2 separate regions of the Homo sapiens genome follow, and region 2 is linked to region 1. Evidence: fine-mapped expression QTL. Tissue or cell type: whole blood. Region 1 holds a variant in brackets; the other region holds the start of a gene. All regions are shown on one strand. Distances are between the middles of the regions.

Evidence for each region. PIP is the estimated chance that this variant, and not a neighbour inherited with it, causes the effect.
Region 2: LRRC43 starts here. The variant in region 1 is fine-mapped to the expression of LRRC43 in whole blood (TOPMed, PIP 0.98).

The regions. Positions count from the first base shown.
Region 1 is chr12:122,159,136-122,164,844 of GRCh38, reverse strand. No RefSeq gene overlaps it. Among named protein-coding and RNA genes, the nearest start is that of IL31, 12 kb to the left of the region's middle. The variant C/A (reference allele first, on the strand shown) is at 2,950.
Region 2 is chr12:122,179,846-122,185,554 of GRCh38, reverse strand. It overlaps LRRC43 (leucine rich repeat containing 43), which reads right to left and starts at 2,432. Exons shown (of 12, transcript NM_001098519.2): 1 at 2,261-2,432; 2 at 776-1,036. The coding sequence starts at 2,410. RefSeq lists an enhancer at 642-711 and a silencer at 2,305-2,404.

The sequences.
Region 1 (5,709 bases):
ACTCTCAAGTCACTAGAATTTATGTTGATGATAATCCGCCAAAACCTAGAAAGAGGCAAAAAGGACTGGGCACAGTGGTTCACGCCTGTAATCCCAGCACTTTGGAAGGCCAACGCGGTTGGATCACTTGCTGTCAGGAGTTCAAGACCAGCCTGGCCAACATGGTGAAACCCTGTCTCTACTAAAAATACAAAAATTAGCCAGTCTTGATGGCGGGTGCTTGTAATCCCAGCTACTCAGGAGGCTGAGGCGGGAGAATCGTTTGAATCCGGGAGGTGGAGGTTGCAGTGAGCCGAGATCATGCCACTGCACTCTAGCCTGGGCGACTGAGCAAAACCGGTCTCAAAAAAACACAAAAAAACAAAACGTCAGGCACGGTGGCTCACTCCTGTAATATCCCAGCACTTTGGGAGGCCGAGGCGGGCAGATCACAAGGTCAGGAGTCCAAGACCAGCCTGGTCAACATGGTGAAACCCTGTCTCTACTAAAAATACAAAAATTAGCCAGGCTTGATGGTATGTACCTGTAACCCCAGCTACTCAGGAGGCTGAGGCAGGAGAATCACTTGAATCCAGGAGGTGGAGGTTGCGTGAGCCGAGATCGTGCCATTGCACTCCAGCCTGGGCGACTGAGCAAAACCCGACTCAAAAAAAAAAAAAAACGTCAGGCATGGTGACTCACTCCTGTAATATCCTAGCACTTTAGGAGGCCGAGGCGGCGGATCACAAGGTCAGGGGTTCAAGACCAACCTGGCCAACATGGTGAAACTCCGTCTCTAATAAAAATACAAAAATTAGCCGGGCATGGTGGCAGGCACCTGTAATCCCAGCTACTTGGGAGGCTGAAGCAGGAGAATGGCTTGAGCCCGGGAGGCGGAGGTTGCAGTCAGGAGAGATCGTGCCACTACACTCCAGCCTGGGTGACTGAGCAGGACTCTGTCTCAAAAAAACAAAAATTAAAAAAAGGCCGAGCGCAGTGGCTCATGCCTGTAATCCCAGCACTTTGGGAGGCCGAGGCGGGTGGATCACGAGGTCAGGAGATCAAGACCATCCTGGCCAACATGGTGAAACCCCGTCTCTACTAAAAATACAAAAATTAGCTGGGCATGGCAGCGGGTACCTGTAATCCCAGCTACTTGGGAGGCTGAGGCAAACGAATCACTTGAACCCAGGTAGTGGAGGCTGCAGTGAGCCGAGATCACACCATTGCACTCCAGCCTGGGTGACAGAGTGAGACTCTGTCTCAAAAAAAAAAAAAAAAAAAAAAAAAAGAGACAAAGCAAATAGAAGAGGTGATCAGATAAAGAGAGACAAATGAGAAAAGAAGGAGGAGAAGGGAGAGAAAAACAAAAGAAAAGCTTGGGCGGGAGTGGTGGTGCACGCCTGTAATCCCAGCTGCTCGGGAGGCTGAGGCATGAGAATCATTTGAACCTGGGAGGTGGAGGTTGCAGTGTGCTGAGATCACGCCACTGCACTCCAGCCTGGACGACAGAGCAAGACTCCATCTCAAAACAAAACAAAACAAACAAACAAACAAAAAACAACAACAAAAAAGAAATGCTTACATATAAAGCCAGAAATTAAATAGGCAGTAAATGTGAAACTGCTCAACCTCACAAGTAACCAAGAAAGGCAAATAAACAGGAGGTTTCTTATGCCTTCACATCAGCAGAGCTTTACAAGTGAGAAAGCCTGAGGGTGAGAAAGGCCCACTCAGCCACTTCTGAAACACGCATCAGAGCCTTACACAGGGATTCGGTCTCCACCCAGTAACCCTCTCCTGGAATTCCTGCCTCACATAATTTCCTAAGGCAATAATCCTAGATTTGGATGGGATATGCACACTTACATGCTCATAATAGCATTGAGGGTAACACCAAAACCAAACAAGCAAACCGAAGTGGAGATGACCTGTGTCAGTCCAGGTCCTCTAGAAGCAGGGACCAAGATGGGATTCTTTGCCATGCAAGACATTCATCAAGGCCAGGCGTGGTGGCTTATGCCTGTAATCCCAACACTTTGGGAGGTGGAAGTGGGAGAATCACCTGAGGTCAGGAGTTCAACACCAGGCTGGCCAACATGGTGAAACCCCGTCTCTACTAAAAATATAAAAATTAGCCGGGCGTGGTGGCGGGCACCTGTAATCCCAGCTACTCGGGAGGCTGAGGCAGGAGAATCGCTTGAACCTGGGAGGCAGAGGTTGCAGTGAGCAGAGATGGCGCCACTGCACTCCAGCCTGGGTGACAGAGTGAGACTCTGTCTTGAAAAAATACTAAATAAATAAAGAGATTCATCAGAGCCAGGCCTGGGAGGGAAAAGAGGAGGGAGCAGGGGATTCAGGGAGCTGTCCCACCACAGGCAGGTCTGACTCTTGCTGGAGGACAGGATGAAGGAAGGAAAGGAGGTTGGGGGCAGCGTCTCAGCCTACGGTGCCATCCTGGGAGACTTCAGCACGAATGTGGGAAAATCCTAAGAGAAGCCTGGGTCTCCCAGGAACGAGCCAGCCTCAGCATCCCTGCCATGCTGTCTCTAGATGGGAGAAGCCTGCGGGAAGCGGGGTCTCCATGTGCTGGGTGATGGATTTCCGGGCACAGCAGCTGGGGGCCCTGGGTCAATTATACTTCCCAGAGTGGGAAATCTGAGGGGCACACTTTCACGGCTGCTATACAACCCCGATGACTGAAAATAAGGCAATGAACAAACAGTGGCCGCTCAAAGTCATTTTATCAAAGAATGTTTACTGGCAGGGTAAAATGCTTCAAGTATGACGTTAATTTATAAAAGCAGGTTATAAAATATATTTATGACGATCCCCCATTGAGTTAAAAAATATGTCTGTTGGGGGAACACGGATGGAGTTGGAGGCCATCATCCTCAGCAAACTAACGCAAGAACAGAAAACGAAATACCACACGTTCTCACTTATAAGTGGGAGCTAGATGATGAGAAC[C/A]GATGACCACAAAGAAGGAAACAACAGACACTGGGGTTTACTGGAGGGGGAGGGTGGAGGCGGGCAGGAGGGTGGGGGGGAAGAGGGAGAGGAACAGGCAGAGAAGATAACTGTTGGGTACTAGGCTTAATACCTGAGTGATGAAATAATCTGTATAAATAAACCCCCATGACACAAGTTTACTTGTTCATTTTCTTTTTTTGAGACAGAGTTTCGCTCTTGTCACCCAGGCTGGAGTGCAGTGGCGCCATCTCAGCTCACCGCAACCTCTGCCTCCCGGGTTCAAGTGATTCTCCTGCCTCAGCCTCCCAAGTAGCTGGGATTACATGTGCTGCCACGCCCGGCTAATTTTATATTTTTAGTAGAGACAGGGTTTCTCCATGTTGGTCAGGCTGGTCTTGAACTCCCGACCTCAGGTGATCCACCCACCTTGGCCTCCCAAAGTGCTGAGGTTACAGGCATGAGCCACCACGCCTGGCAGTTCATTTTCATACTGCTATAAAGACATACCTGGGGCCAGGCACAGTGGCTCACACCTGTAATCCCAGCACTTTGGGAGGCCGAGGCAGGTGGATCACAAGGTCAGGAGATTGAGACCATCTTGGCTAACATGGTGAAGCCCCATCTCTACTAAAAATACAAAAAATTAGCTGGGCGTGGTGGCGGGCGCCTGTAGTCCCAGCTACTCGGGAGGCTGAGGCAGGAGAATGGCGTGAACCCGGGAGGCGGAGCTTGCAGTGAGCTGAGATCGTGCCACTGCAGTCCAGACTGGGAGAGACAGCGAGACTCCATCTCCAAAAAAAAAAAAAAAAAAAAGGCATATCCGAGACTTGCTATTTTATAAAGAAAAGAGGTTTAATTGACTCACAGTTTTGCAGGGCTGGGGAGGCCTCAGAAAATTTACAACCATGACAGAAGCGGAAGAGACACTTCTTACATGGCCGCAGGCGAGAGAGAGTGGTGAGCAAAGGAAGAAGCGCCCCCTTATAAAACCATCAGAGAGAACTCACTCATTATCACGAGAACAGCATGGGGAAAACTGCCCCCGTGATCCAATCACCTCCACCTGGCTTCTCGCTAGACACGTGGGGATTACAATTCCAGATGAGATTTGGGTGGGGACATAAAGCCTAACCATACCATGTTGCTATGTAACAAACCTTCACATGTACCCCTGAACCTAAAATATAAGTTTAAAATAAAGTGTCTGTGTGTGTGTGTGTGTCCACCTATCTTACATATAGACAGAAAGCAAGACTGGCAAAAAAAAAAAAAAATCTTTGGGCAGGGGGAGAATTTTTCTTTTTTTGTTTTTTCTTTTTGATCTCAGTGGTGCGATCTCAGCCCACTGCAATCTCCGCCTCCTGGGCTCAAGCGATTCTCCTGCTTCAGCCTCCTGAGTAGCGGGGATTACAGGTGCCCACGACCACACCAGGCTAATTTTTGTATTTTTAGTAGCGATGGGGTTTCACCTTGTTGGCCAGGCTGGTCTCAAACTCCTGATCTCAGGTGATCCACCCACCTCGGTCTCCCAAAGTGCTGGGATTACAGGCATGAGCAACCATGCCTGGCCAAGAATTTTCTTTATATTTTAATGTATTTTCCAAATTTTCTAAAGTTAGTATGTATTATTTTAGAAATCAGTCAAATAAACATGATTTCAAGTTTTAAAAAAGAAATAGCACTTGGAGAGAAGGTGAGAAATGGAGAGGTGTGAAGGCTTTTCCAAGTGTTGGTAATAAGGTAAGAAAAGACTTTAGCACCCCCAGGTGTCTTACTGTAGCAGTGGGTTTGTGACATTGGTGTTTCTTCTCAACCATCTCTGACACCAGGCTCAGCTCCACTGTCCCCAGCTCTTTATCTGCTCTTCGGATCTCCCCGCTGAATGGACAAAGCAGTCCCCTGGCGTGACTCCTTGTAGAACCAATTTTGCAGTAAAACCAATGCAATATTATTTCTCTCAGCCCTTTTACGCACTACCCAAAATGACAGTACTTTATAGTGAGAAGGAATACTTAGAATGACAATTCTGAGGCTCTTCAAGATCCCAACGTTATTAATTTCCTATTCAATGGCCCTGGAAACATTTTCCCCCAACAGCATTAGTGCTAAGAGCAGCTATTCTTGGATTCAGTTTCTGGTCCTTTACTTACTATATGTGACATAACCTTAGACAAACAACTTCATCTCTAAAAGTTACAATTAAACAATTATACAGTTTAGCAGTGTGTGTGTGTGTGTATTCACAGAGTTGTGCACCTATCGTCACTATATAATTCCAGAACATTCTTATCTCCCCATTAGTAGTCACTACCCACTTGCTTTCAGTCTCCCCAGTGTCTGGAAACCACTAATCTACTTTCTGTCTCGATGGATTTGCCTGTTCCACAATTTTTTTTTTTTTTTTTTGAGACAGTTTTGCTCTGTCGCCCAGGGGGGTGTGCAATGGCGGGATCTTAGCTCACTGCAACCTCTGCCTCCCAGGTTCAAGCGACTCTTCTGCCTCAGCCTCCCGAGTAGCTAGGATTACAGGGGCCCACCTCCACGCCTGGCTAATTTTTCTATTTTTAGTAGAGACAGGGTCTCAGCATGTTGGCCAGCTGGTCTCAAATGCCTGACCTCAGGTGATCTGCCCATCTTAGCCTCCCGAAGTGCTAGGATTACAAGTGTGAGCCACCGTGCCCAGCCTACTCCACAATTTCCCATGAAGAGAATCATATAGTATTTGTCCTCTTATGTCTGACTTCTTCCCTTTTTCAA
Region 2 (5,709 bases), 21 kb before region 1:
GCAATTTTTGGGCTGGCTTGCTGGCTTTATTTATTTATTGAGACAGAGTCTCACTCTTGTTTGCTTGCTTGCTTAATTGATTGAGACAGGGTCTCATTCTGTCACCCAGGCTGGAGTGCAGCGGTGCGATCATGATCACTGCAGCCTCTACCTCCCCACCTCAAGTGATTCTCCTGCCTAAGCCTCTGAGTAGCTGGGGCTACAGGCGTGCACCACCATACCTGGCTAAATTTAAAGATGTTACAGAGGTGGGATCCCACTATGTTGCCCAGGCTGGGCCTCTAACACCTAGACTCACACGATCCTCCTGCCTCAGCCTCCCAAAGTGCTGAGATTACAAGCACCAGAGAGCCACCATGCCGAGACTGGGCTCTGCTACTGATGTAAACAAAGAATGCTTTTTGGTAACAAATTAAAATAGAACTACACCAACCTTCCCCTACCCTGACCCCCACGGTTTAAACGAAGTAAAACTAACACAGACCCTTCAAAAAACCTTTACTAGGACCCAGGAGGGTCCACTGCAGAACTCAGGGGTGGAAGCTGTGCCATGATGGCTTCCAGGGGTAAAGGAAGAAGAAACGCAAGGCTGACCGAGTAGCCGGCCCTGCCTGGCACACAAGCCAGGGAGATGAAGCAGATGGAGGGCAGGCTGGCCTTCGTTTCAGCCCTGAAAGCAGGATCCCTGACGCGCTGTGGGGAAGGGTGCCCTCCCCACAACCTCCCTTAGGGGAGCGGCCACCCTAACATCACCTACCACGTGCCCAGCACTGACCTTCTTGTCTATTACCCGCAGGGACCGGAAGTAGGAGTAGAAGAAGGTGTCTGTGATCGTCAGCGGGTTCCGGATGGCCAATTCTCTCAGGAAACTGTCTTCTGCATTCGAGTTGTTCAGCAGAGCCCAGGGGGAGTGGCGGCTGCGGACCAGGCCCAGCAGGGCCTCCACCGTCTCCTCTCCGGGGCTCACCACATCCTCCTCTCTGGGGACAAGCTCCCTCCAAGTTCGCCAAGTTTGAGGAAGAAAGCGCGACTTATTCTGCAGTGGCAGAGGAGGGATTTTCTGTAGGTGTGACACAGCCCCCTTAAGGACACCAAACTCTCAAAACAGAACAGATCATAAAACTGGACGATTAGGGATAGAGTTTAGAAATCTAGAGAGTAGGCCAGGTGCGGTGGCTCATGCCTGTAATCCCAGCACTTTGGGAGGCTGAGGCAGGCGGATCATGAGGTCAAGAGATCGAGGCCATCCTGGCTAACACGGTGAAACCCCGTCTCGACTAAAAATACAAAAAATTAGCCGGGCGTGGTGGCACGCAACTGTAGTCTCAGCTACTCGGGAGGCTAAGGCAGGAGAATCGTTTGAACCCGGGAGGCGGAGGTTGCAGTGAGCCGAGATCACGCCACTGCACTCCAGGCTGGGTGACAGAGCGAGACTCCGTCTCAAAAAAAAAAAAAAAAATCTAGACAGTGAATAATCAATAATTTTGATGGATTATTAGCCATGGATATAACTACAGATGAGGTGAGATACAAAATAATTAAAAGGTGCCATTCCTTTTAAAAAGGCAGGTGGATCACTTGAGGTCAGGAGTTTGAGACCAGCCTGGGCAACATGGTGAAATCCTGTCTCTACTAAAAATACAATAATTAGCCGGGCATGGTGGCAGGTGCCTGTAATCCCTGCTACTTGGGAGGCGGAGGTTGCAGTAAGTCGACATCGCGTCACTATGCTCCAGCCTGGGCAGTAAGCCTTCCTGGGCCACACCTGGGCGCCCCTCGTGGTTGAAGCCACGGGAGGGAAGGGTCTAGGACTCTGGAGACAGGGAGGCAGGATGGGGGGTAACCCCTTCTCCTGGACTCAAGGTCGCAGGCTTCAGGCTGAGCCACCTCTCACACTGCCTCAGGCTCTTATTAAATGCTCGGAGGCTGGGAAAAGTTGTGGAACTCTTTGCCCAAAACAAAAGCTTTTCACCCCAAAAGGAGCCTGCCCACTAGAAATCTGGGGTGTTGACGTCTTCAAGTCAGGGAGAGGCCCCAGCCCAGGTCAGCTGATGTGCTCAGGACGGGCCCCGCTCTCCTCCCCGCGCAGTGCCCGCGACTCGGGCCCCACCGTCACCCTCAAGCCCCACCCGCCCCCATGTCGGCGGCCCCCAGAATGCGCAGATCCCAGGCCCCAGGGACCAGCCCGCTCCGCTCGCCCGGGCCCGTGCCTCCCCGCAGCCGGTCCAGGCCCCCAGAGTTCCGGCCCCGGCGCCCGCACCCAGCTGCCGGCACCGCACGGGAACTCGCGCAGACACAGCTTCCGCAAGTGCTCGCGCACGGCCGCGCTCACGGTCCCGGTCCCGGGCCGCTGAGTCCCAGGCCCGGCCTCAGACTCGGACTCGGACTCGGACTCGTACGACGCCTCCATGGCCCGGGCCGCGTTGCCCGGCAACCGCTAGGACGCGTGCGCGGGGGCAGGGGCCTCTCCAGGCGCTCTCACCTGCCCCGAGGGAAAAGTCCCCCATCCGGATCAGACAGCCTGGCCCCAACCACCTGCGTTTTCTCTTCTGCCCTCATCTATAAAAATGGGATAACAGCTGGTGGTTCTAAGTGCGGCAGCTCCCGCAGGCAGTAAGCGCCATAGCTGACCTGTTTCTTAGCTCCTGTCAAGCACTCCCCACGGAAAGTCATCCTATACCCATCTGACAGATGGAGAAAGGAGAAGAGGGCCCAAGGTCAAACATCTCGACTCCAACCAGCCAGTGGGTTCCAGGGTGGTCTCTCTAACCCTGGAGTCAGGGATTTTATCACTGTCCACCTGTATAACTGTTTAATCACCCAGACCTCATTTTTTAAATTTTTTATTTATTTTATTTTATTGAGACAGAGTCTCGCTCTGTCGCCCAGGCTGGAGTCCAGTGGCGAGATCTCAGCTCACCGCAATCTCCGTGTCCCGGGTTCAAGCGATTCTCCTGCCTCAGCCTCCCGAGTAGCTGGGATTACAGGCGCGCATGACCACTTCCGGCTTTTTTTTTTTTTTTTTTTTTTTTGAGACCGAGTTTCACTCTTGTTGTCCAGGCTGGAGTGCAATGGCGCGATCTCGGCTCACTGCAACCTCCGCCTCCCAGATTCAACCGATTCTCCTGCCTCAGCCTCCCGAGTAGCTGGGATTACAACCGCCTGCCACAACGCCCCGCTAATGTGTATTTTTAGTAGAGACGGGGTTTCACCATGTTGGCCAGGCTGGTCTCGAACTCCTGACCTCAGGTGATCCACCCACCTCGGTCTCCCCAAGTGCTGGGATTACATACGTGAGCCACCGCACCCAGCCTAATTTTTTGTATTTTAGTAGAGATGGAGTTTCACCATGTTGCCCAGGTTGGTCTCAAACTCCTGGGCTCAGGCAATCCACTGGCCTCAGCCTCCCAAAGTGTTGGGATTACAGGCGTGAGCCACCACGCCCAGCCATGAAGCTTCTTTTATAAGGACATTGATCCCATTCCTGAGGAGCCCCCAAACTTAATCACTTCCCAAAGGGCCCCACGTTTTAATACTATCACACTGGGCATCAGGTTCTGACAAATGAATTTTGGAGGAACACATTAACATCTCTCATTCTTTTTGACTATACGATATCGGGACAACTTTACTGTTATTAGAAAAATTAGGCTGGGCGCGATGGCTCACCCCTGTAAACCCAGCACTTTGGGAGGCTGAGGTGGGTGGATCACCTGAGGTCAGGAGTTCGAGACCAGCCTGATCAACATGGTGAAACCCCGTCTCTACTAAAAATACAAAAATTAGCCAGGCGTGGTGACACATGCCTATAGTCCCAGCTACTTCGGAGGCTGAGGCAGGAGAATTGCTTGAACCCAGGAGGCGGAGGTTGCAGTGAGCCGAGATCACATCACTGCACTCCAGCCTGGGCAACAGAGTGAGACTGTCTCAAAAAAAAAAAAAAATTTATCCAAAACTGGGAGTTAAGGCAAAAAGATGACCATATGTCCTTTCTTTTCCTTTTTTTTTTTTTGAGACGGAGTCTCCCTCTGCCGTCCAGGCTGGAGTGCAGTGGTGCAATCTCGGCTCACTGCAAGCTCCGCCTGCCAGGTTCACGCCATTCTCCTGCCTCAGCCTCCTGAGTAGCTGGGACTACAGGCGCCCGCCACCAAGCCCGGCTAATTTTTTGTATTTTTAGTAGAGACGGGGTTTCACCGTGTTAGTCAGGATGGTCTCGATCTCCTGACCTCGTCATCCGCCCACCTCAGCCTCTCAAAGTGCTGGGATTACATGCATGAGCCACCGGGCCCAGCCAACCATATGTCCTTTCAAAGAAGAAAATATCCTTTTTTTTTTTTGAGGCAGGGTCTCCCTTTGTTATCCAGGCTACTGTGCAGTAGCGTGATCACAGGTCACTGAAGCCTGGACCTCCTGAACTGAAGCGGTCCTCCCACCTCAGCCTCCTGAGTGGCTGGGACTACAGGCATGCATCACCATGCCTGGCTAATTTTTTTGTATTTTTAGTACAGATGGGGTTTCGCCATGTTGCCCAGGCTGGTCTCGAATTCCTGACCTCAAGTGATCCACCCACCTCAGCCTCCCAAAGTGCTGAGATCACAGGCGTGAGCCACCATGCCTGGCTCTCAAAGAATAAAATAAATATCTATGAGTCCATAGTGATATAAATAAATCAAGGAGATGAATCACAGATATGGCTCCTGCAATTTTGATGGAGCAACAGATGGACAATGTGCAGTGAAGGAAGAGAAGACTGAGAGGGGAAATCAAGCATCCTGTTTGGAACAAGTTAAGGTCCAGATGCCAATGGGCGTCTACTGTGTCAAATCAGCCATTGGTTAGGAGTAAGAGCTCAGGAATGAGGTCAGGTCTGGGCAGACCACAGAGCCCAAGATACACAGAAGAGGCCCAGCCAGGAAGCCCTTCCACCCTTCATCCCAAGTCCCCCTGCAGCCAACACTGTCTCTTTTCTCTTCCTTCTCATCCAAGCTTCTTGACACAGTGGTCTATACTCACTTTTTCTTTTTTTCTTTTCTTTTGAGACGGAGTTTTGCTCTGTTGCCCAGGCTGGAGTGCAGTGGCGCAATCTTGGCTCACTGCAACCTCCGCCTCCTGGGTTCAAGCAATTCTCCTGCCTCAGCCTTCTGAGTAGCTGGGATTGCAGGCTCCCGCCACCATGCCCAGCTAGTTTTTGTATTTTTAGTAGAGACAGGGTTTCTCCATGCTGGTCAGGCTGGTCTCGAACTCCTGACCTCAAGTGATCCACCTGCCTTGGCCTCCCAAAGTGCTGGGATTACAGGTGTGAGCCACTCGCCCCTGGCCTATGCTCACTTTTTCCTCACTTCCCAAACCACCACAATATAACTGCCACACCAAAAATTTATTCAAACTCTCCCAGCAAAGTTTCTGTGACCTCATGTTGCCCAATCTAGTGAATCTCCTCAGCCTTTATCTTATTTGACCTCTTCATGGCTTTTGATGATGCCAACCATTTCCTCCTTGAAAAACTGCTTTTCATCTTATTCCATGACAACATGTATTTCTGGTGTTACTTTTCTTTCTCTCTCTCTTTTTTTTTTTTTTTTTTTGAGACGGAGTCTCACTCTGTCACGAGGCTGGAGTTCAGTGGCGCAATCTCGGCTCACCGCAACCTCCACCTTCTGGGTTCAAGCAATTCTCCTGCCTCAGCCTCCTGAGTAGCTGGGACTACAG